3 linked regions of the Homo sapiens genome follow. The protein of the gene in region 2 purifies or fractionates together with the protein of the main gene of each other region. This does not show direct contact. Each region holds a gene or a part of one and is shown on either strand. Other genes may lie near its edges.

Region 1 (7,027 bases), on a different chromosome or scaffold from region 2:
TCCCAAAGTGCTGGTATTATAGGCATGAGCCTCTGCGCCCGGCCACGAGCGTACTTTTCATGCTTAGGTTGCAGGTTTTGTAGGAGAGTGATGGCTTTGTAGGAGAGGGATGGGAACTATAGGGGCATCTAAAGCTCTAAAACATCACTGCCTCCTCTTCTCCCCCACCAGCCCACAACCACTGCCTCTCAAGCTTAACAAATGCTTGAGAGGCAGTAGATGTTAGGCTTGCCTTTAAGTAAAAGAGAGCAGGATCTACTAATCAATATTAGTACCTGCTACATACCTAACACAGTGACAATAACAATGAAAATTAATAAAAACAATGAGAACTAAGGTCTTTTAGTTCTAAAAGTAACCAAAGGCTCGTTCCCTTATGCTTTCAGAAGCCCTGCAGCAGTGTTGTGACCTCTCCCAGCTCTGGTTCCGAGAATTCTTCCTGGAGTTAACCATGGGCCGACGAATCCAGTTCCCCATCGAGATGTCCATGCCCTGGATTCTAACGGACCATATCCTGGAAACCAAAGAACCTTCCATGATGGAGTAAGAGGCAGGATTGGGCCAGCAAGTGGCTCCTGGGGTACAAGTAGAGGGCAGTTTGCCAGGGAGATCCGTTCTTTCCAGAAGGAAGCACTGAGTTGACAAGAAATGAGGCCATATGTCCCACCACAGGGAGAGCTCAGCCAGACAGAATCATTTAATTCAGCCTTGCAGATAAATTCTGAAGTTTCCCAGCCCAACTGCCCTTCCTATGCCTTGTCAGCCTCATAACAGCTATGCTCAGAAAAGAATCATCTCAGGAGCAGGTAGCTTGTATTCTTAACTGCTACCTGATGTGTTTTAGTCCCAAATGAATTTTTACAAGTCTTGGTTTTATTTGCACCCTGGACTTTTTCTTTGGACTGACTGTAAAGTAAGTTGCTTCTAAGCGGTGGAGGCTCAAGGAACGTAAGAGAGGGATGAAAGATGGTCTTTTCCTGACTGTGAACTTGTTTCTATTTCCCAAGCAAGTATAAAGCTGTCTTCCTTAAGGGGGGTTATTAGCAAGCGGCTGGCTGTGTTTTTCCCTCTTCAGGTATGTCCTCTACCCTCTGGATCTGTACAACGACAGCGCCTACTATGCTCTGACCAAGTTTAAAAAGCAGTTCCTGTACGATGAGATAGAAGCTGAGGCAAGTGATGTGCTTCTCTTTTTGCTCCTTTAATCTTGTTCCAAATTCCGGACTTTTCCAGTCTTTTGCTATTAGCATGAAGTAGGAGTATCAGTGACTTGTTCTGGAGAGGAATCTCTGTAACCATGGCCATCAGAAGGCCTGTGTAACCTCTGAGGGCAGAAGTACAAACTGAGACACCCAGCTCAGGGCCTGCTGCCTTTCTCTTCCCACCCACAAACTCTGTGCTGCACCATGAAGGGCTTCATGTGCATGTGTATAAATACCCAAGCTCTGCCTGCCAACTCTGCTCAAAAACAGTGGCCCTTGGCTAGACCTAAACCCTAGGGTCACACACACCCATAGTGGAGTCCACCCTCAGAGGGGAAGCCAGGGAAGAGAGCACGTGGCCCTGGAAGAGGCTTGAGCCGCCTGTAGAAGGCTTCTCAGAACTGGTTCTAGAAGGGGAGAATGGGGCCTGAGTGCACACGCCCACCTTGACCTTATGGATTCTTTGCCTGGAGGGAGGTCCGCTGATGACCCTTGAAGCTCAAAGTGCAGGTCAGAGGCCTCGGTGACCTGGGTCTGAGGAAAGCACTAAACACAGCGCTGGGGTTTTGTGTTCTGCATACCACGTAGGGTGTGAGATGAAAGATCTGAAAGCTTTTTGAATCATTAACCTTATGGAGCCAAGAGTCTGGTGAAAAAAGGACCAAAGGTTAATCACATAAATATTAAACATGAAAGACTTAAAATATTAAATCTGACAGTAAATAGGATCTGTTTCCTTTGACTCTTACCTAGCTACTGCCTTTGCCCCATCTCATGGTCATGTCCTGCTCTTGCCATTTCTGAAATATTTGGTTTGATTCTTCATGTCTGTGTGAATTATCTTCCCACCTGAGCATCACAGTCTATCACTGATGATGAGACCCTGAAATGGCAAGACTTTATTCATTAAAAACCAAAGTTATGTAAGCAAAGTTTGAAGGAAGGCGCTTTTAAATGTGACTATCAACTTCATAAACAAATTTGTGGCCACATGTGGTGGCTCATGCCTGTAATCCTAGCACTTTGGGAGGCCAAGGTGGGTGGATCACCTGAGGTCAGAAGTTCGAGACCAACCTGGCCAACATGGTGAAACCCCGTCTCTACTAAAAATACAAAAATTAGCCAGGCATGGTGGTGGGTGCCTGTAATCCCAGCTACTTGGGAGGCTGAAGGATGAGAATCACTTGAACCCGGGAGGCGGAGGTTGCAGTGAGCCGAGATCACACCACTGCACTCCAGCCTAGGTGACAGAGCAAGACTCTGTCTCAAAAAAAAAAAAAATTGCAAATCAAAGAAAAATACAATGAAAATAACATCCATCTGAAGAGATGGATGGGGAGGCTGCCGAGTTAGCGGACGAATTTGAGCACTGATGGGTTCTGACAGTCTGTCTGTTGCATCCCTCCAGGCAGGCGGCCTCGAAACAGCTGAGGAGAGGGGCCGTGGGGAGATTGGGTCCTTTTTGAACTTTGACTTGTCTGTTCACTGACTGAGGACCCTGAGAGCAAGGGACCAAATCTCCCAAACTTAGCCACAGAATATTTTTCCCCTTCAAAGCGTCTTTCCCCAGAATGCACTCTGGGCAATCCTGCCTGACTGCTGTCTTTCAGTTGGCTCAGTTTCTGTCATAAAGCTGAACGGGCACCAGTGATGTTTCCTGCTTCCTCTCCACCAGGTGAACCTGTGTTTTGATCAGTTTGTCTACAAGCTGGCAGACCAGATCTTTGCTTACTACAAAGCCATGGCTGGCAGGTAGGAAAGCCCCAGAGCTGTGAGTAGCAATCTCTTAAGACTGCCACCTAGAAGACATGATTTTCTGTTGTGAAACCTCCCTTCTTCTTTAGCACCTTAGGAAAACAGAGCCATTCCACGGACCCGGACTGGGTGCTGAGATAGAGTGGAAAGGAAACTAGGCAGATAAAGGGCTAACCTCACACAGCCTGCAGTCCAGCAGGAAAGACAGACATCGACTAAAAGCCGATGAATGCACAGTGACAAGGAGGTTACATGCTGTCTGTGAGGGAAAAGCTCATGGGAATGTACGATGGTTAAACCTTTGGGGGCGGGGAACTAGAAAGGCCATCTTGCGGAAGTGGCATCTGAGTTCTTATCTGAAGTTGGTAGGAGTGAAGGAAGTAAAACGAGGTGAAGGATGGGGCAGGACGTTGCAGGCAAAAGGAACTGCTTGTGCAAGGACCCTGCGGTGGGAGTATGATGATAACAGCATGCCAACTTCACAGGGCTGTGGGAGGATTCCTGTGGATTAATACATGTCAGTGTCTCTTCACCACCACTAGAGGGGGCAAGCTGCATGCTAAGGCTGGGGAGTGGGCAGGGCCAGAGCACACCAGCTTTGTAGCTGTTTCTCCCGGGAGTGGAATGCCTCCGAATGGTTTCAAAAGTACAACCGTGACCCGATTCGATTTTTATTTACTTTTGAAAGTTTACTCTCTTAAAAATATAAATGTATGGAGAATGAATTGGAGAGGAATGGGTGTGTGCAAACCAGACAGGAGGCCAGTGAAGAAGTCTGGATCAGAGATGTATCAAGCTTTAGAGGCTCCTTGGTATTGCCAGTATATGTTGATTCAGACCCTCGTGAGTTCTTGGGTTTCAAGGACCTGTAACAGCATTGATCGAGGAAAACCTCAAATTTTATATATAGGTATTTCCTTTCTTATTGGAAATCCAAACATACCAACCAGTAATTTCAAGGATAGTTCCTTACTTTAATAATTTTTCTATGAAAAGGATTTGCTTCATTTTGCTTTTAACAGCCAAAGTAGCCCTGATATATTTCAAAGAGGAGTTGATGTGCAGCACACACAAGTGTCTGTTAACACAGGATGTGCATTAAATAACGCGACTCTTAAATGCTGTAAAGTATTGAAAGCATGCACGTAGGATTTCAAGGAAAGCAGAGAACACAGCCTTTCACAAAGTAGTCAATAGGCATCTGTGGATTGAATGGGATGTGGTTCTAACAGTGAGTTGAGTTTCTGGCTTCTGTAAGACAATTCTGATTCCAAATACACTGTTCCATCATCTATATAAACAGACTCAGGCGTGTCGAACCCTGGGTCTTCCTTCTTCAGACATATGGGCTTTTATCTACACCCTTCCCTGTAAGATCAGTGATTTTTTAAAGTGTGGGAAGTTGAGGAGGTTGAGAGATTCAGGGAAAGCCCAGGAAGAAAACCATGAGCTAGGTCAGTCCTGTTCATTCAAAATGCCATGTGGCCACAAATATGAGCCAGAGATGTTATTTTAAATTTTTTAGCAGACATATTTTAAAAAGGAAAAAGAAGCAGATGAAATTAATTTTAATAATATATTTTATTTAACCCCACATATCCAAAACATTATAATTTTGACATACACTCAATATAGACATTATTAGAGATTTTTCATTCTTTTCTTCTAAGTCCTCAAAATCCTGTTTACAGCCCATCTCAATTTGGACCAGCCACATCTCAAGTGTTCAGTAGGCACATGTGGCTGGTGGCTACTACTTTGGACAGTGTAAATATAGATGGTGTCTCTTTCTTGCGTAAAACCTTTTGGTGCCTTTTAGTTATGTCTAGAATACACCTAGCCACTTTACTATGGCCTGTGTGGCCCTACCTGGTTTGGCCCTGGTCTCATGTTATAAATTCATTTTGCACCATGCTCTCCAACCTGCACTATACTTTATCCACACTGGCCATCTTTCCTTTTCTTAAATGTAACCAAGCTTGTTGTGTAAATGATAGTGTTCCCTTAGATCTTTCCAATTTTATCATTCAGGTCTCTGTTTAGCAAAACTTCTTTAGAGAGACTTTGGACTTCCTAACTCCAAATGATCCCATTTTCTTATTTTCAAAGCACTTCTCCTCTGCAATCCATGCCTCAGTGTGAAAGATAGTAACACTCTCAGCTCATAGGGTTGTGGTGAGATTTAAAATGTGTGTGTGTGTGTGTGTGTGTGTGTGTGTGTGTGTGTGTGTGTTTGTGTTTAAAGTGCCTGGGAAATAATAAACACTATGCAACTGTTACCTATTATCTGAAATTATTCCATTCCTCTGTTTGTGTTTATATTATCAGTCTTTCCTCACTCGAATATAAACTCCATGAGGACAGGAACTTTGTATTCCCAGTACCCAGAATGTTTCCTGGGATACACCAAGCAGGCACTCAATTGCTTTTGCAGTAAATGAATAAAAGAGGAAAGTGGCTCAACTTCTGTGTTGCCCATCTTTAACTTAGAAACTCTGTTTCACATATTGAGCTTCTGTGACTGAAAAGAAATTTGACGTAACTTGTCTAGAGCAGAAAACAATTTTACTTAAGTTATATAAGATAGTGCTCTGTGGGTAGATCCTATGATCTGAAATAGATGTATCTGGGCAGTTGAGAGTCATTCACAATCTGTTTACTGGCCTTGTTTCACTTTTATTCCTTGCAGTGTCCTGTTGGATAAACGTTTTCGAGCTGAGTGTAAGAATTATGGCGTCATCATTCCGTATCCACCGTCCAATCGCTATGAAACACTGCTGAAGCAGAGACACGTCCAGGTATGGGGAGCAGAAGCCACCTTGGAGATGGAAGGGGCAGGAGAGAGCAGCTGCGAAGTTAGCATAGAGATCAGAAATCAGGCCTGGGTATTGTCTGCCCGGCATGTTGCCAGTGTGGATTTCCGAGCCTGGGTGTAGCACAGCCTCAGGATCTCATAAACAATAAAGAGGCATTGGGCTTCCTTTGGCTCAAGTTCTGGGCTTCTCCACCCATCTATAGCCAACCTCTGACAAGTTATGGCAACCAAAGCCTTTGTCTTCTCATCATAACCTGCAGCCCACTTTTTTCAGCTGGGACTGCCACTTAGAGATGGGTAAATCTGTCCCTGAACAGGGCCCAAGTGCCGGTCTAAGTGAGGAAGACTGTGGCGCCTTTGAAATGAAAGCATGTCAGGGCAAATCCACGGTAGAAATTGGGTTTTTTGTGTGCAGAGTTGGTTTCTATTAACATTTGACCCTATATGTAGAGGAGATGTTGCTGGGAACTGAGAAACATCCCCATTTAATAATATTAATGTGAGGCAGACAGACAGCATAAGAGATGCCCCAGCAGATGTCGAGCCCTCCTCCTACAGCCCTGCTGTTGGCCAAGCGGGTGGCAAAATGGCCTTTATGCTGTGACGTCTGTGTGCTTATTATGTGGTCCTGGTCTTTGTGAAAGGGCCAGGCTGAGGCTAAGATCATGCCAGAGGTGAAAAGGAAAGAATTCATCTCAGAAACCCTGGACATTCCCATTACTATGAGAAATCCAAGGGAGATGGAGAATCATTAAGAGGGGGGAAAAATAGAATTTGTACTTCTGTCAACAACAGGGGCTCAATGAGAGCTTTTCTTTCACCCTTTCAGAAGATTACTGCTATCGGTTACAATGCAGCCAGAATTAGCCACAGGATATTAAATACTGAGGGCTTTATGTGTGCATAAGATGGCTATAAGGGGCCCTGGTCAGTTGGTAGAAAATTGATGCCAAAAGAGAAGTTGAAAAATAAAATAGTTAAGAATAATCATTTGACACCTAGCAAAGTGCTGTGGACACAGCAGGTACTCAACAAATGTTCATTGCTATCTACATAGCAGCTGCAGTAATGCCCGCGTGTACCCCAGTGGAAAGTACCTTAAGTTATATTTTCCATTCTGTAATCAGACCTTCATCCTCTTGCTTTTAAATTTTCCCTCATGAAGGCACAATGTGGGCCCTTGCTGAGGCAGCTGCTGTGCCCTGGTGACTGAATTGAGTGCAAGAAAGATGGCAGAAAGAACCCCAGGGCTAAA
Region 2 (7,892 bases):
TGACCCAGGAGTCCAGGCCCCCAGCCCCTCCTCCCTCAAACCCAGGAGTCCAGGCCCCCAGCCCCTCTTCCCTCTGACCCAGGAGTCCAGCCCCCCAGCCCCTCCTCCCTCTGACCCAGGAGTCCAGACCCCCAGCCCCTCTTCCCTCTGACCCAGGAGTCCAGGCCCCCAGCCCCTCTTCCCTCTGACCCAGGAGTCCAGGCCCCCAGCCCCTCTTCCCTCTGACCCAGGAGTCCAGCCCCCCAGCCCCTCTTCCCTCTGACTCAGGAGTCCAGACCCCCAGCCCCTCTTCCCTCTGACCCAGGAGTCCAGCCCCCCAGCCCCTCTTCCCTCTGACCCAGGAGTCCAGCCCCCCAGCCCCTCTTCCCTCTGACCCAGGAGTCCAGCCCCCCAGCCCCTCTTCCCTCTGACCCAGGAGTCCAGCCCCCCAGCCCCTCTTCCCTCTGACCCAGGAGTCCAGCCCCCCAGCCCCTCTTCCCTCTGACCCAGGAGTCCAGGCCCCCAGCACCTCTTCCCTCTGACTCAGGAGTCCAGGCCCCCAGCCCCTCCTCCCTCAAACCTAGGAGTCCAGCCCCCCAGCCCCTCTTCCCTCTGACCCAGGAGTCCAGACCCCCAGCACCTCTTCCCTCTGACTCAGGAGTCCAGACCCCCAGCCCCTCCTCCTCCAAGACCCTGGATGCCAGGTCCTGTTTCTTTAGACCCAGTTCTATGGGCCTGGGGCTCCCTTGCCCCCCGCTCACCATAGATAGACTTGGCGCTTGGCTTTGGGGCAGCTTCTGGGCTGGTGAAGAAAAGAGGAATGAGAGAGACTGTGGGACTGGGGGCAGATCCTGTGGAAATGCCAAGCAGGGCAGCAAGGGCTTCATGACGAAGGTAATGGGGAGCGATGGAAGGGTTATTATTATTATTATTATTATTATTATTATTATTATTATTGAGCAGGAGAGCTCAGAGCCAGAGCTGGACTTTAAGAAGACAGGTAGGCTGGGCGCGGTGGCTCACGCCTGTAATCCCAGCACTTTGGGAGGCAGAGGTGGGCGGATCACAAAGTCAAGAGATTGAGACCATCTTGGCCAACATGGTGAAACCCTGTCTCTACTAAAAATACAAAAATTAGCTGGGTGTGGTGGTGGGCGCCTGTAGTGCCAGCTACGTGGGAGGCTGAGGCAGGAGAATCACTTGAACCTGGGAGGCGGAGGTTGCAGTGAGTCCAGATCGTGCCACTGCACTCCAGCCTGGCAGCAGAGTGAGACTCCATCTCAAAAAAAAAAAAAAAAAAAAAAAGACAGGTCAGGTCAGGCGGTGGTGCTGGGTGGTAGGGGAGTGTGATCTCTACCATGGCATAGTCCGGGATTCAAACCCTCTGTCTACTGCCTCCTTGCCATAAGACCTTCAGAAGAGGATTTAATCTCTCCTGCCTCAGTTTTTCTTTCTGTAACGTAGTAACCATCTGGTAGGGCTGTTGGGCAAATTCAGTCAGATGATGCAGGTGAAGTATTTTGAAGCCTCAATAACTGTTATTATCATTCTTAAGATGCTGCCAGGGCTTAGCACACAGAAGTTGCTCAATAAATGGGAATGGTTATAATAGCATTAGTGGTATCTGAAGTAGACAGGGAATTATCTGCTTCCCCTCCCACTCCCATGGGCCAGGTGCTTCCCAACCACATCCTTCTCTGTCTCCTCCCGTCCTCAATTTCTTCCTAAGATTACCTTTCCTAAGAATTCTTGAATCCCCACTTGCATGCACATAACAGAAGCTCAGCGATCAGGTGGCGTCAGGGGAACTGAAAAACCCTTTTTCCCAAACTCCTGTTCCTCATCCTGCTCCTGCCAGTCTGATGTCACCACAATTTGATTACCTCTGGGCCAGAGAGCTCACTACCTACCATGCAGGTATTTTGACTCATCTCTCATTGTTTTTCTCCCTGCTTACTCTGGGGGACTTGAGTCTTCATTATAAACAGCCCTGATTTTCTAGCAAAGGGTTAATATTTACTAACAACATAACAATCGCAATAGCGACTCCTATGAGTTGAGCACCTGCTGTCAGTGAGGTGGTCAGCTAAGTCCTGTAATGCACTATCCCTCCAATTTTTCAACATTGTCCCTGTGTCACAGAGGAGGGGCTGAGGCTCCAGGAGGTGATGTCCTCTGACCAGGGTTACATCAGCACTGAGTGTGAGGGCCGAACTGGAGCTCAGGCCTGTCTGCTCTGCAGTGGGGGCCCCTAACCCCAGGCTGGGCAGGGAGGAGAGAGGCTCTGGCTTCCTCCTGAGTGTCGGGGCTTGGGCCAGAGTCTGGGCCGCCGCAAACAGTCTGGGCTGCCGCAAGCGGGTGTGGGTGAGGAGGCGAGGGGAGGCGGGAGGCGTGCTGGGGCTGGGACCTGGGGTCCGGGGGCGCTTACCCTGTGGCGGTGCTCATGGTGCTGAGTGGTAGCTCCTGCCCACCTGGAGGTGCCCTGGGAGCCAGCAAACATGTGAAGGCCTGGCCAGTAGGAGCCTCTAATTCCTACCCCAGCCTCCTCCCTCAATGCAGGCATCCAGGCCCCAGCCCCTCCTCCCTCAGGCCCAGGAGTCCAGGCCCCCAGCCCCTCCTCCCTCAGACCCAGAAGTCCAGGCCCCAGTCCCTCTTCCCTAGACCCAGGAGTCCAGACCCCAGTCCCCTCCTCCCTCAGACCCAGGAGTCCAGACCCCAGTCCACTCCTCCCTCAGACCCAGGAGTCCAGGCCCCATCTCCTCCTCCCTCAGACCCAGGAGTCCAGGCCCTCAGCCCCTCCTCCCTCAGACCTAGGAGTCCAGGACCCCAGGCCCTCCTCCCTCAGACCCGGGAGTTCAGACCCCCAGCCCGTCCTCCCTGAGACCCTGGAGTCCAGACCCCAGTCCCCCCGTCCCTCAGACCCATTGGTCAAGCCCCGGCCCCCTTCTCTCCTGACCCGGATCTCCTTACCTGCCTGCTCAGGCTCTGCCCTGCTCTCCGCTGTCCTTTCCCTTCCAGGCTGCCGGCCCCTCCTCCTGCTCCCTCCCAGGGCCGTCCTGCCTCCGCCTCCGCCTCCGCATACCTGAGCATTCACCTGGCACAGCCTGGCTGGAGTGACCCCGGGGCGGGGCTGGCAGACAGATCTAGGAGGGGCTGGGGGGACTGCAGGGGAGCTGGGAAACTAACTGTCTGCCTTGTAGCAACAGAATAATAGCAACGAACAGTACATTTGATGTCACACTTGTTCACAGGTCAGAGTTGAAAGCTCTGTCTTTAAAACTCCCTTGAAATTCTAACAGCGGGAGGAAGTTCGAGGTTTGATTCCTGCTTGACAGATGAGGAAGCTGAAGGCCAGAGAGGTTGAGCAACTTGTCCATTTCAGCACTTGGTTAAGGAGGGATTTGAACCCGGGGCTGACCTTCTGTCTCCAGGGCCAGTGGCAGCCCGTCTTCTATGGACACCTCCTGCCCACGATCACTGCCTCTGCTCATGCCCTTACCTCCCCACCCATCCCGTTCCACCTTCCTTTGGAAATTTCCCTCAATGACCCCCCTATTCTGACAAAAGCTAAGATTTAGCTCGATAATGCCTGGCCCAGCTCCAAGGACATCACAAAAATGAACAGGCTTTCCAGGCATAAACACCTTTCTGAAATCACTTTTCCAGAACTCCCTCCATGCTGTAGAGGTTACTAGCAAAGCTTTCCACATCATTTCTCCCCAGAGCCCCGTGAGGGGAGTGTGTCTGGGTGGGAGGCTGTCTTCGTCTCACAGATGAGAAAATGAGGAAGAGAAGGGTTAAGAAACTTGCATGGGTACAGTGGCTCACATCTCTAATCCCAGCACTTTGGGAGGCCGAGGCAGGCAGATCACCTGAGGACAGGAGTTCGAGACCAGCCCAGCCAACATGGTGAAACCCCATCTGTACTAAAAACACAAAAATTATCCAGGTGTGGTGGCGGGTGCCTGTAATCCCAGCTACTCAGGAGGCTGAGGCAGGAAAATCACTTGAACCCGGGAGGCAGAGGTTGCGGCGAGCCGATAATTGCACCACTGCACTCCAGCCTAGGCAAGAGAGCGAGGCTCCATCTCAAAAAACAGAAAACAGGCCGGGCGCAGTGGCTCACACCTGTAATCCCAGCACTTTGGGAGGCCGAGGCGGGTGGAACACGAGGTCAGGAGATCGAGACCATCCTGGCTAACACGGTGAAACCCCGTCTCTACTAAAAATACAAACAATTAGCCGGGCGTGGTGGTGGGCACCTGTAGTCCCAGCTACTCGGGAGGCTGAGGCAGGAGAATGGCGTGAACCTGGAAGGCGGAGCTTGCAGTGAGCCGAGATTGCGCCATTGCACTCCAGCCTGGGCGACAGAGCGAGACTCTGTCTCAAAAAAGAAGAAAAAAAAAAAGCTGACATCTTGCAAGGCCTTAAGGGACGTGATTCTGATCTCATCTCTTCCTTCTGTGTGTCAGCACACTGGCCTCCTTGCTGCTCTTGGAACATCCAGACCCGGTCCTGCCTCAGGGCCTTTGCACTTGCTGTTTCCTCTGCCTGGAATGCTCTTCTACCAGATACCCTCATGCCTCACTTTCTTGCCTCCTTTGATCTTTGCCTGAATGTCACCTTCTCAGAGGACTGGCTGACCACCCTGTTTCAAATGGCGGCATCCCTTACTCGACTTCTTTTGTTTTTTTTGAGACAGAGTTTCACTCTTGTTGCCCAGGCTGGAGTGCAGTGGCGCAATCTTGGCTCACCGCAACCTCCGCCCCCCCAGGTTCAAGTGATTCTCCTGCCTCAGCCTCCTGAGTAGCTGGGACTACAGGCGCGCGCCACCACGCCCGGCTAATTTTGTACTTTTAGTAGAGACAGCATTTCACCATGTTGGCCAGGATGGTCTCGATCTCTTGACCTCGTGATCTGCCCGCCTCGGCCTCCCAAAGTGCTGGGATTATGGGTGTGAGCCACCGCCCCCGGCAACCCAACTTCTTTGTAGTCTCTTTCCTCTCTCCCTACTTCATTTTTGTGTGGAGAACTTTTCACCTTCTTACCCACTGTGTTCCTGGTTCATTTTGTCTGTGTCTCCTCCGTTAGAATGCAAGCTTCACAGGCTGGGCACGGTGGCACATGCCTGTAATCCCAGCACTTTGGGAGGCTGAGGCGGATTGATCACTTGAGGTTGGGAGTTCGAGACCAACCTGGCCAACATGGTGAAAGCACGTCTCTACTGAAAATATGAAAATTAGCCGGGGGTGGTGGTGTACACCTGTAATCCCAGCTTCTTGGGAGGCTGAGACAAGAAAATTGCTTGAACCCCGGAGGTGGAGGTTGCAGTCAGCCGAGATCACACCATGTCACCAACATGATAAAACCCCATTTCTACTAAAAAAAAAAAAATTAGCCAGAGTTGGTGGTGCACACCTGTAATCCCAGCTTCTTGGGAGACCAAGGCAAGAGAGTCACTTGAACCTGGGAGGTGGAGGTTGCAGTGAACCGAGATGATCGTGCCACTGCACTCCAGCCTGGGTGACAGAGCGAGACTCCATCTTAAAAAAAAAAAAAGCGGCCGGGTGTGGTGGCTCACGCCTGTAATCCCAGCACTTTGGGAGGCCGAGGCGTGTGGATCACGAGGTCAGGAGATTGAGACCATCCTGGCTAACATGGTGAAACCCCGTCTCTACTAAAAATACAAAACAATTAACCAGGCTTGGTGGTGGGTGCCTGTAGTCCCACCTACTCCGGAGGCTGAGGCAGGAGAATGGCGTGAACCCGGGAGGTGGAGATTGCAGTGAGCCAAGATTGCTCCACTGCACTCCAGCCTGGGTGACAGAGCAAGACTCCATCTCAAAAAAAAAAAAAAAAAAATGCAAGCTTCACAAGGGCAAAGATTTTTGTGTGATCAGTCCTCCACTTAATCTGCAGCACACAGAATTGGGTCTAGCACATAGAAAGTGTTGGAGAGATACTTGTTGAGTAAACGAGCTTTTGGCATTTGGTGCATTCATGTGCATTACTGCTTTGTTGCTTCATTCAAGATATGTTGCCTCCACGGTCTATGCTGAGTGAGCCTGGAAATCAGAGAAGGCACATTTTTGCCTTCGATTGATGGGGATGAAGGAACAGAGAGAAAGAGATATAGTGTGGTCTGATGGCAGAGAGCCTCGGGCAGGTGTGGGTCTGAATCCTGGCTTTGCCACTTGATAATTTTGGAGATACTTATTGTGTGCTTATATCTTCTCAGTACATCATAAATGTGTGTGTGTGTGTGTGTGTGTGTGTATGCATAATCCTCACCACATCCTATGGAATGGGTCCTATTATCCCCATTTTTTTTCTTAATTGAGACAAGGTCTAGTTCTGTGGCCCAGGCTAGAATGCAGTGTCATAATCACAGCTCACTGCAGTCTCGACCTACTGGGGTGATCCTCCCATCTCAGACTATATATAAATATATATACACATATATATAGTAGAGTCTCCTTATGTTGCCCAGGCTGGTCTCCAACTCCTGGGCTCATGTGATACTCCTGCCTTATCCTCCCGAAGTGCTGGGATGACAGGCATGAGCCACCCACCACACCCAGCTTATTGGGAGGATAAAGTCAGGTTATAGAGAGTTGTCAATACAGTACCTGGCAAAGAGGAAACGCAAGGCTGGTGTTAGCAATGGCGAGGACGATGGCCTTTCTTCCCATGCGTGCTGCAAGGGAGGACACGAGGGGCTCTGCCAAGGCCAGGAGAGGCTGCTGAGGGTCAGGACAGGCTGCCTGGAGGAGGAGGACAGGCTGCCTGGAGGAGGAGGGCAGGCCAGGAATCACCTTGAAGGATGAGTTTGACAGCCAGTGTCAATCCTAGAAGATAGGGGTGTTCTGGGCCCTGCAACTGCCTGAGTGAAGGATGGGGGCTGCAGGGGTGGCCAGCGGGGCTAGACTGTGAGCTCCTGGCTACCCAGCAGGTGGTCCTGGTGCGTGTAGCAGCGGGTGGGGGAGGTAGGGGTGGAAGGAGGGCCCTTACGCTTCTCTTTCTTTGGCTTCTGCAATTCTGTGTTCTCATCACATTCATGCCACAAGTATTTTCTGTGCTTGACTGTACCTGAGTTGGGGTTTGAGGGAAGGAGCAGACCCCTTGCCCCATTGACAGGAGAAAACAGAGGCTCAGAGAGGGAAGTCAGTAGCCTAAGGTTACAGTGGCCCTGGGCTGTGACACAGATGCAGATCTGACTGGGCCTGGGCTCATTTCTTCATGAACAAGGGGAGAAAACTATCTCATAGAAGCATTTGGTATGGGTCCGAGGCCTTTGGGTCTGAGGGAGGAGGGGCTGGGGTCTGGACTCTTGGGTCTGAGGGAGGAGGGGCTGGGGGCCTGGACTCCTGGGTCTGAGGGAGGAGGGGCTATCTCATTGCTTTGGGGGTGGCGCAGGCGGCCCTCCAGGCCATGGTCTGGAGCAGCAGGTGAGACCGAAACCCGAGCCTCCACCCAAGTCCCAAGTCCCAGGGCCCAGGGCCTCTTTCCTCCTTCTCTGGCCGCAAAGGAGGCCCCTCCCTCTCTGTAACCCACAGCAAATGCCTCCCAAATACCAGTCAAAGTGTCCACCCCTGCACAGTCTGACTCAGCCAGTCCAGGGCGGAGGCAGTAAAGCCCTGTCTTGGCAAGTCACCAGGGAAATCCATCACCGAAGCACCTCTCTCCCCCCTCGGCCTGGCTATTCTGTCATTGGCACCTGTTCTTGGGTGAGTGACAGGGCTCTGTGGTCAGGGTTTGCCTCTGTCCCAGTCTGGGATAGCTGTCTTGGGGGGCTGGCCTTTCTTCCCTCTCACCTGGGATGTCCCAGGAACGGAACAGAATTCTCCCCTGGGGCTTGAAGAGCTCACCCCCCATCTCCTCCGTTATCCCCACCCCCACACCACCCAACACAC
Region 3 (7,027 bases), on a different chromosome or scaffold from region 2:
CAAAGCCTTCTAAAGACTCAATGCAATCCCTTTGAAAATTCCAACAGCACTTTGTTTTTGCAAAAATAACCCATTTTAAAATTCATAGGAATCTCCAAGGACCCAGAATAGCCAAAGCAATCTTGAAAAAGATGAACAAAGTTGGAGACTTCACTCCTTTTTATTTCAAAACTTACCATAAAGCTACAGTAATTGAAACAGTGTGGCACTGGCATAAAGAAAGGCATACTGGCCAATTAAACAGAACAAAGAACCCAGACATAAACCTTCACATATGTGGCCAAACAATTTTCAACAATGATGTCAAGATCATTCAATGGAAAAAGAATAGTCTTTTCAACAAATTGTGTTAGGAAAACTGAATATCCACACATACATGAATTATGTTGGACCATTACCTTATATAATATACAGAAAAGTTAATTTGGCCTGGCGTGGTGGCTCACTCCTGTAATCCCAGCACTTTGGGAGGCCGAGTCGGGCAGATCACAAGGTCAAGAGATCGAGACCATCCTGGCTAACACGGTGAAATCCCGTCTCTACTAAAAATACAAAAAATTAGCTGGGTGTGGTGGCGGGGGCCTGTAATCCCAGCTCCTAGAGAGGCTGAGGCAGGAGAATCGCTTGAACCCGGGAGGCGGAGCTTGCAGTGAGCCGAGATTGCGCCACCGCACTCCAGCCTGGGCGACAGAGCAAGGATCTGTCTCGAAAAAAAACCAAACACACACACAAAAAAGAAAAGTTAATTCAAAACAGATCAACGCCTAAACATCGGATCTAAAACTATAAAACTCTTAGAAGAAAACAGGAGAAATGCTTCATGACATCAGATTTGGCAATGATTTCTTGGATATGACACCAAAAACACTGGCAACAACAGAATTAATAGACCAGGTGCTGTTGCTCACATCTGTAATCCCAACACTTTGTGAGGATGAGGTGGGAGGATCACTTGAGCTCAAGAGTTCAAGACTAGCCTGGGCAACACAGCTAGACCTTGTCTCTACTAAAAAATAAAATAAGGCTGGGCGTGATGGCTCATGCCTGTAATCCCAGCACTTTGGGAGGCCAAGGCAGGCAGATCGCTTGAGGTCAGGAGTTCCAGACCAGCCTGACCACCATGCAGAAACCCTATCTCTGCTAAAAATACAAAATTAGCCAGGCGTGGTAGTGGGCGCCTGTAATCCCAGCTTGAGTAGCTTGAGGCTGAGGCAGGAGAACTGCTTGAACACGGGAGGCAGAGGTTGCGGTGAGCCAAGATTGCGCCATTGCACTCTAGCCTGAGCAACAAGACCAAAACTCTGTCTCAAAAAAAAAAAGAAAAAAGAAAAAGAAAAGAAATAAAATAAAAAGTAGCTGCACGTGGTGGCTCACACCTGTAGTCCCAGACACTCAGGAGGCTGAAGTGGGAGGATCGCTTGAGCCCAGGATATCAAAGCTGCAGTGAGCCATGACTGCACCACTGAACTCCAGCCTGGGTAACAGCCTAGGTAACTCATCTCAAAAAATAAATAAACAATAGATAGTACCCAAAGCAATCTACAAATTCAATGCAATCTACAGGTTCAATGCAATCTACAGATTCAAAGCAATCTACAGATTCAATGCAATCTACAGATTCAATGCAGTCTCTATCAAAATACCTACCATATTCTTCATGCAAATAGAAAAAGAAATCCTAAAATTTGTGTGGAACCACAAAAGACTTGGAATAGCAAAAGCTATCCTGAGCAAAAGAACAAGGCTGGAGGCATCACACTACCTGACTTCAGAATATACTACAGAGGCTGGGCATGGTGGCTCCCGCCTGTAATCCCAGCACTTTGGGAGGCTGAGGTGGGCGGATCACCTGAGGGCAGGAGTTCGAGACCAGCCTGGCCAACATGGTGAAACACCGTCTCTGCTAAAAACAAAAAAATTAGCTGGGTGTGGTGGCGCACGCCTGTAATCCCCAGCTACTCAGGAGGCTGAGGCAGGAGAATCGCTTGAACCCGGGAGGCGGAGGTTGCAGTGATCCAAGATTGCGCCATTGCACTCCAGCCTGGGTGACAGAGTGAGACTCCGTCTCAAAAACAAAACAAAACAAAAAAAACTACAGAGATATAGTAACCCAAACAGCACACTATTGTCATAAACACAGACACATAAACCAATGGAACAGAATAGAGCCTGGAAATAAATGCATGCATTTGCAGCCAACTGATTTTTAACAAAGGTGCCAAGAACACACAATGAGAAAAGGATAGGTTCTTCAATAAACGGTGTTGAGAAAACTAGATACACACATACAGAAAAATAATATCAGACCTTGGCTTCTCAACATAGACAAAAATCAACCCGAAATGAATTAAAGACTTAAATGTGGCCAGGTGCGGTGGCTTAGCCTATAATCCCTGCGAAGCCCAGGCAGGGGGATCACCTGAGCTCAGGAGTTTGAGACCAGTCTGAGCAACATGGTGAAACCTTATTTCTACAAAAAAACACAAAAATTAGGCGGTGGCTCACACCTGTAATCCCAACACTTTGGGAGGCTGAGGCAGGAGGATCACTTGAGGTAAGGAGTTTGAGACTAGCCTGGCCAACATGGTGAAACCCTGCCTCCACTAAAAATACAAAAATTAGCCGGGCATGGTGGTGCACACCTGTAATCCCAGCTACTCAGGAGGCTGAGACAGGAGAATCGTTTGAACCTGGGAGACAGAGGTTGCAGTGAGCCAAGATCGCGCCACTGCTCTCCAACCTGGGCGACAGAGTGAGACTCCGTCTCAAAAAAACAAAACAACAACCAACCAAAATTTAGCCAGGCATGATGGTGCACACCTGTAGTGCCAGGTACTGGAGAGGCTGAGGTGGGAGAATTGCTTAAGCCCAAAAGGGCAAGGCTGCAGTAAGCCATGATTGCCCCACTGCATTCCAGCCTGGGTGACAGAACGAGACCTTGTCAAAAAAAAAAAAAAAAAAAAAAAAGGGAGAAGAAACTCCCTAACCATTAGCAGTTATTCTCACTTTTTCTACCCGTTCTTCACTGATCCTCTCTCCCCTGCTTTCTGGCCCCAGGCAATCACCTGTCTACTCTCTGTCTCTGTATATTTGCCTATTCTGGACTTTCCCCCTTGTATCTAACTGTAAATGTGTATCCTTTGACCAACATCTTCCTCTCTCCCCTTCCGCCAGCCACCCCAGCCTCTGGTAACCACCATTCTGCTCTGTTCTTCTGTGGCATCAGCGTTTTCAGATTCCACATGTGAGTGAGATCGTGCAGTACTTGTCTTTCTGTGCCTGGCTTATTTTGAGGAAATAAAGCCTCAAAAGCAAAGGCCACAAAAGAAAAAATAGACAAATGGGATTACATCAAACTAAAAATGTTCTGCACAGCAAAGGAATCAATCAACAAAGTGACAATCTACAGAATGCAGGAAAATATCTGCAAACCATATAACTAATAAGGGATTAATAATGAAAATATACAAAGAATTCAAACAACTCAATTGTAAAAGATCTGAATGGATATTTCTCAAAAGAAGGTGTACAAGTGGCCAACAGGTGTATGAAAAAATGCTCAACATCGCTAATCATCAGGGAATCCAAATCAAAACCACAATGAGCTATCACCTCACACCTGTCAGACTGGCTCTTGTCAAAAAGGCAAAAGATAACAAGTGTTGTCCAGGGTGTGGAGAAAGGGAAACCCTTGTACACTGTTGGTGGAGATGTAAATCAGTATAGCCATTGTAGAAAACAGTGCCGGGGGTTCCTCAAAATATTAAAAATAGAACTACCATATGACCCAGCAACACCACTGTTGGGTATATATCTAAAAGAAATGAAATCCGTATGTCCAAGAGATCGCTGTACCCCATGTTTATTGCAGCACCTTTCACAACAGCCAAGACATGGAATCAACCTAACTGTCCATCAACAGATGAGCAAGGCCGGGCCTGGTGGCTCACATCTGTAATCCTAGCACTTTCAGGAGGAAAGGAGGATTGCTCCAGCCCAGAAGTTCAAGACCAGCCTGGGCAACATAGTGATACCCCATCTCCATTTAAAAAATAATTAAAATTAAAAAAACAAAAACAGGCCGGACACGATGGCTCATGCCTATAATCCCAGTACTGGGAGGCCGAGGCAGATGAATCACTTGAGGCCAGGAGTTCGAGACCAGCCTGGCCAACACGGTGAAACCCCTTCCTCTACTAAAAATGCAAAAAAATTAGTCAGGCTTGGTGGCACCTCCTGTAATCCCAGGTACTTGGGAAGCTGAGGCATGAGAATCACTGGAACCCAGGAGGCGGAGGTTGCAGTAAGCTGAGATCACACCACTGCACTCCAGCCTGGGTGACAGAGTGAGACCCTGTCTCAAAACAAACAAACAAAAACTGGATTATGGTGATGGTTGTTGCACAGCTCCAGAAATCTTCTAAAAATTATTGTATAGTTGTCCCTGAAACAACACGTGTTTGAACCATGCGGGTCCACTTATTTGCAGACTTTTTCCAGTAAAAGTTACACGGTGTATGCCTGCCTCTCTAGCCCCTCCTTCCACCTCCCTCCACTTCTGCCTTTGCCACCCCCAAGACAGCAAAACCAACCCATCCACTTCCTCCTCCTTGGCCTGCTCACTGTGAGCTTTTTGAGGATGGAGACCTTTCTGATGATCCACTTCCACGTGATGAGTAGTCAGTTTATTTCCTCTTCCTCATGATTTTCTTAACAACATTTTCTTTTCTCTAGCTTACTTTATTATGAGAACACAGTATGTAATACATATAACTTACAAAATCTCTGTTAATCAACTGTTTATGTTATCAGTAAGGTTTCTGGTCAATAGCAGGCTATTCGTAGTTTTAACTTTTGGGAAGTCACGTAGTTTTAACTTTTGAGAAGTCAAAAGTTATACTTGTCCAGCCTGGCCAACATGGTGAAATCCCATCTCTACTAAAAATATAAAATTAGCCAGGCATGGTGGCGGGTGCCTGTAATCTCAGCTACTCAGGAGGCCGAGGCAGGAGAATCGCTTGAACCCGGGAGGCAGAGCTTGCAGTGAGCCGAGACAGAGCGAGACTCCGTCTCAAAAAAAAAAAAAAAAAAAAAAAAGGTTAAAGGCCAGGCTCGGTGGCTAACGCCTGTAATCCCAGCACTCTGGGAGGCAGAGGCAGAGGCGGGCAGATCACCTGAGGTCAGGAGGTCGAGATCAGCCTGACCAACACAGTGAAACCCCCTCTCTACTAAAAATACAAAATTAGTGGGAGTGGTGGCGCATGCCTGTAATCCAAGCTACTTGGGAGGCTGAGGCAGGAGAATGGCTTAAACCCAGGAGGCAGAGGTTGCAGTGTGCCAAGATCGTGCCATTGCACTCTATCCTGGGCAATAAGAGCGAAACTCCATCTCAAAAAAAGTTACACTCGGATTTTCAACTGCACAGGGGGTTGGAATCCCTAACCCCCTCGTTCACAGGCCAGCCAAACGTATACTTAAAAGTAGGTGAATTTTATAAAGTAGGTATATTATACCTCAATAAACAAAATTTTTGTTTAAAATTTTTGTTTTTAAAGCATGCTAATATTTTTAAATTGGAATTGGGTTAAATTTATAGATCAATATGAAGAGAACTGATGTCTTTACTATGTTGAGTGTTCCAACCACTGACCATGGTATGTTCCCCCATTTACTTAAATGATCTTTGATTTCTCTCATCTTCAGCATACAGATCCTGTAAGTCTTATTCAATGTATACCTAAGTATTTGATTCCTTTGAAGCAAACGAAATGTTGTGTTTTTAAATTTAATTTTCTTTTTTTTTTTTTGAGACGGAGTCTCGCTCTGTTGCCCAGGCTGGACTGCAGTGGCGCGATCTCGGCTCACCACAACCTCCGCCTCCCGGGTTCAGGCGATTCTCCTGCTTCAGCCTCCTGAGTAGCTGGGACTACAGGCGCACGCCACCATGCCCAACTAATTTTTGTATTTTTAGTAGAGACAGGGTTTCACTATGTTGGCCAGGCTGGTCTCGAACTCCTGCCCTTGTGATCCGCCCGCCTCGGCCTCCCAAAGTGCTGGGATTACAGGCGTGAGCAACCACGCCCAGCCAAATTTAACTTTCTAATTGTACATTGCTAGTACAGTAGTCCCCACTTACCTGTAGTTTCATTATCTGCAATTTCTGTTTCCCCAGTTATAGCTGCCTACAGTCAACTGCCCTCCAAAAATAGGTGAGTGCATACAAAAAGATATTTTGAAAGAGAGAACACATTTATATAACTTTTATTCAGTATATAATTATTCTATATTATGAACAGTTATTGTTGGTAATCTCTTACTGCGCCTAATTTGTAAATTAAGCTTTATCATAGGCATAGATGTATAGGGAAAAAAACCACAGTACACGGAGGGTTCTGTCTTATCTCAGGTTTCAGGCTTCCATTGGAACGTATCGTCCATGGATAACAAGGACTGTTGTAAACAGAAATAAGGTCAGCTTGTATAGTGTTGACTTTGCATGTATCTCCCCATGGATAAGGGGCACTGCTGTATGCAGAAATAAGGTCGCCAGGCCGGGCCCGGTGGCTCACGCCTATAATCCTAGCACTTTGGGAGGCCGAGGCAGGCGGATCACCTGAGGTTGGGAGTTCCAGACCAGCCTGACCAACACGGAGAAACCCCATCTCTACTAAAAACACAAAATTAGCCAGACATGGTGGCACATGCCTGTAATCCCAGCTACTCGGGAGGCTGAGGCAGGAGAATCGCTTGAACCCGGGAGGCAGAGGTTGCGGTGGGCCGAGATCGCACCATTGCACTCTAGCCTGGGCAACAAGAATGAAACTCTGTCTCAAAAAAAAAAAAGAAAAATAAGGTCGCCTTCTGTGTGTTGACTTTGTATCTTGTGACCTTGCTAACCTCATTAATTAGTTCTAGTAGCTTTTTCATAGATTCCCTGGATTTTCTATGTAGATAATCATGTTGTCAGCAAATAGGGACAATTTTCCCTTTCCAATTTGTATGCCTTTTCTTTCTTTGTCTGATACTA

Evidence for each region.
Region 1: the proteins of EPS8L1 (region 2) and CYFIP2 purify together in Homo sapiens (co-immunoprecipitation; 2 studies listed by BioGRID and IntAct, with this or other methods). This does not show direct contact.
Region 3: the proteins of EPS8L1 (region 2) and CYFIP1 purify together in Homo sapiens (co-immunoprecipitation; 2 studies listed by BioGRID and IntAct, with this or other methods). This does not show direct contact.

The regions. Positions count from the first base shown.
Region 1 is NC_000005.10:157,325,096-157,332,122, forward strand, and holds part of CYFIP2 (cytoplasmic FMR1-interacting protein 2), read left to right. Parts: intron 1-386; coding exon 387-543; intron 544-1,075; coding exon 1,076-1,172; intron 1,173-2,877; coding exon 2,878-2,954; intron 2,955-5,646; coding exon 5,647-5,755; intron 5,756-7,027. UniProt on the Homo sapiens protein: Involved in T-cell adhesion and p53/TP53-dependent induction of apoptosis. Does not bind RNA. As component of the WAVE1 complex, required for BDNF-NTRK2 endocytic trafficking and signaling from early endosomes.
Region 2 is NC_000019.10:55,070,977-55,078,868, reverse strand, and holds the start of EPS8L1 (epidermal growth factor receptor kinase substrate 8-like protein 1), read right to left. Parts: upstream 3,001-7,892; 5' UTR 2,950-3,000; exon of another isoform or gene 2,462-2,949; 5' UTR 2,425-2,461; coding exon 2,408-2,424; intron 782-2,407; coding exon 741-781; intron 1-740. UniProt on the Homo sapiens protein: Stimulates guanine exchange activity of SOS1. May play a role in membrane ruffling and remodeling of the actin cytoskeleton.
Region 3 is NC_000015.10:22,970,369-22,977,395, forward strand, and holds part of CYFIP1 (cytoplasmic FMR1-interacting protein 1), read right to left. Parts: intron 1-7,027. UniProt on the Homo sapiens protein: Component of the CYFIP1-EIF4E-FMR1 complex which binds to the mRNA cap and mediates translational repression. In the CYFIP1-EIF4E-FMR1 complex this subunit is an adapter between EIF4E and FMR1.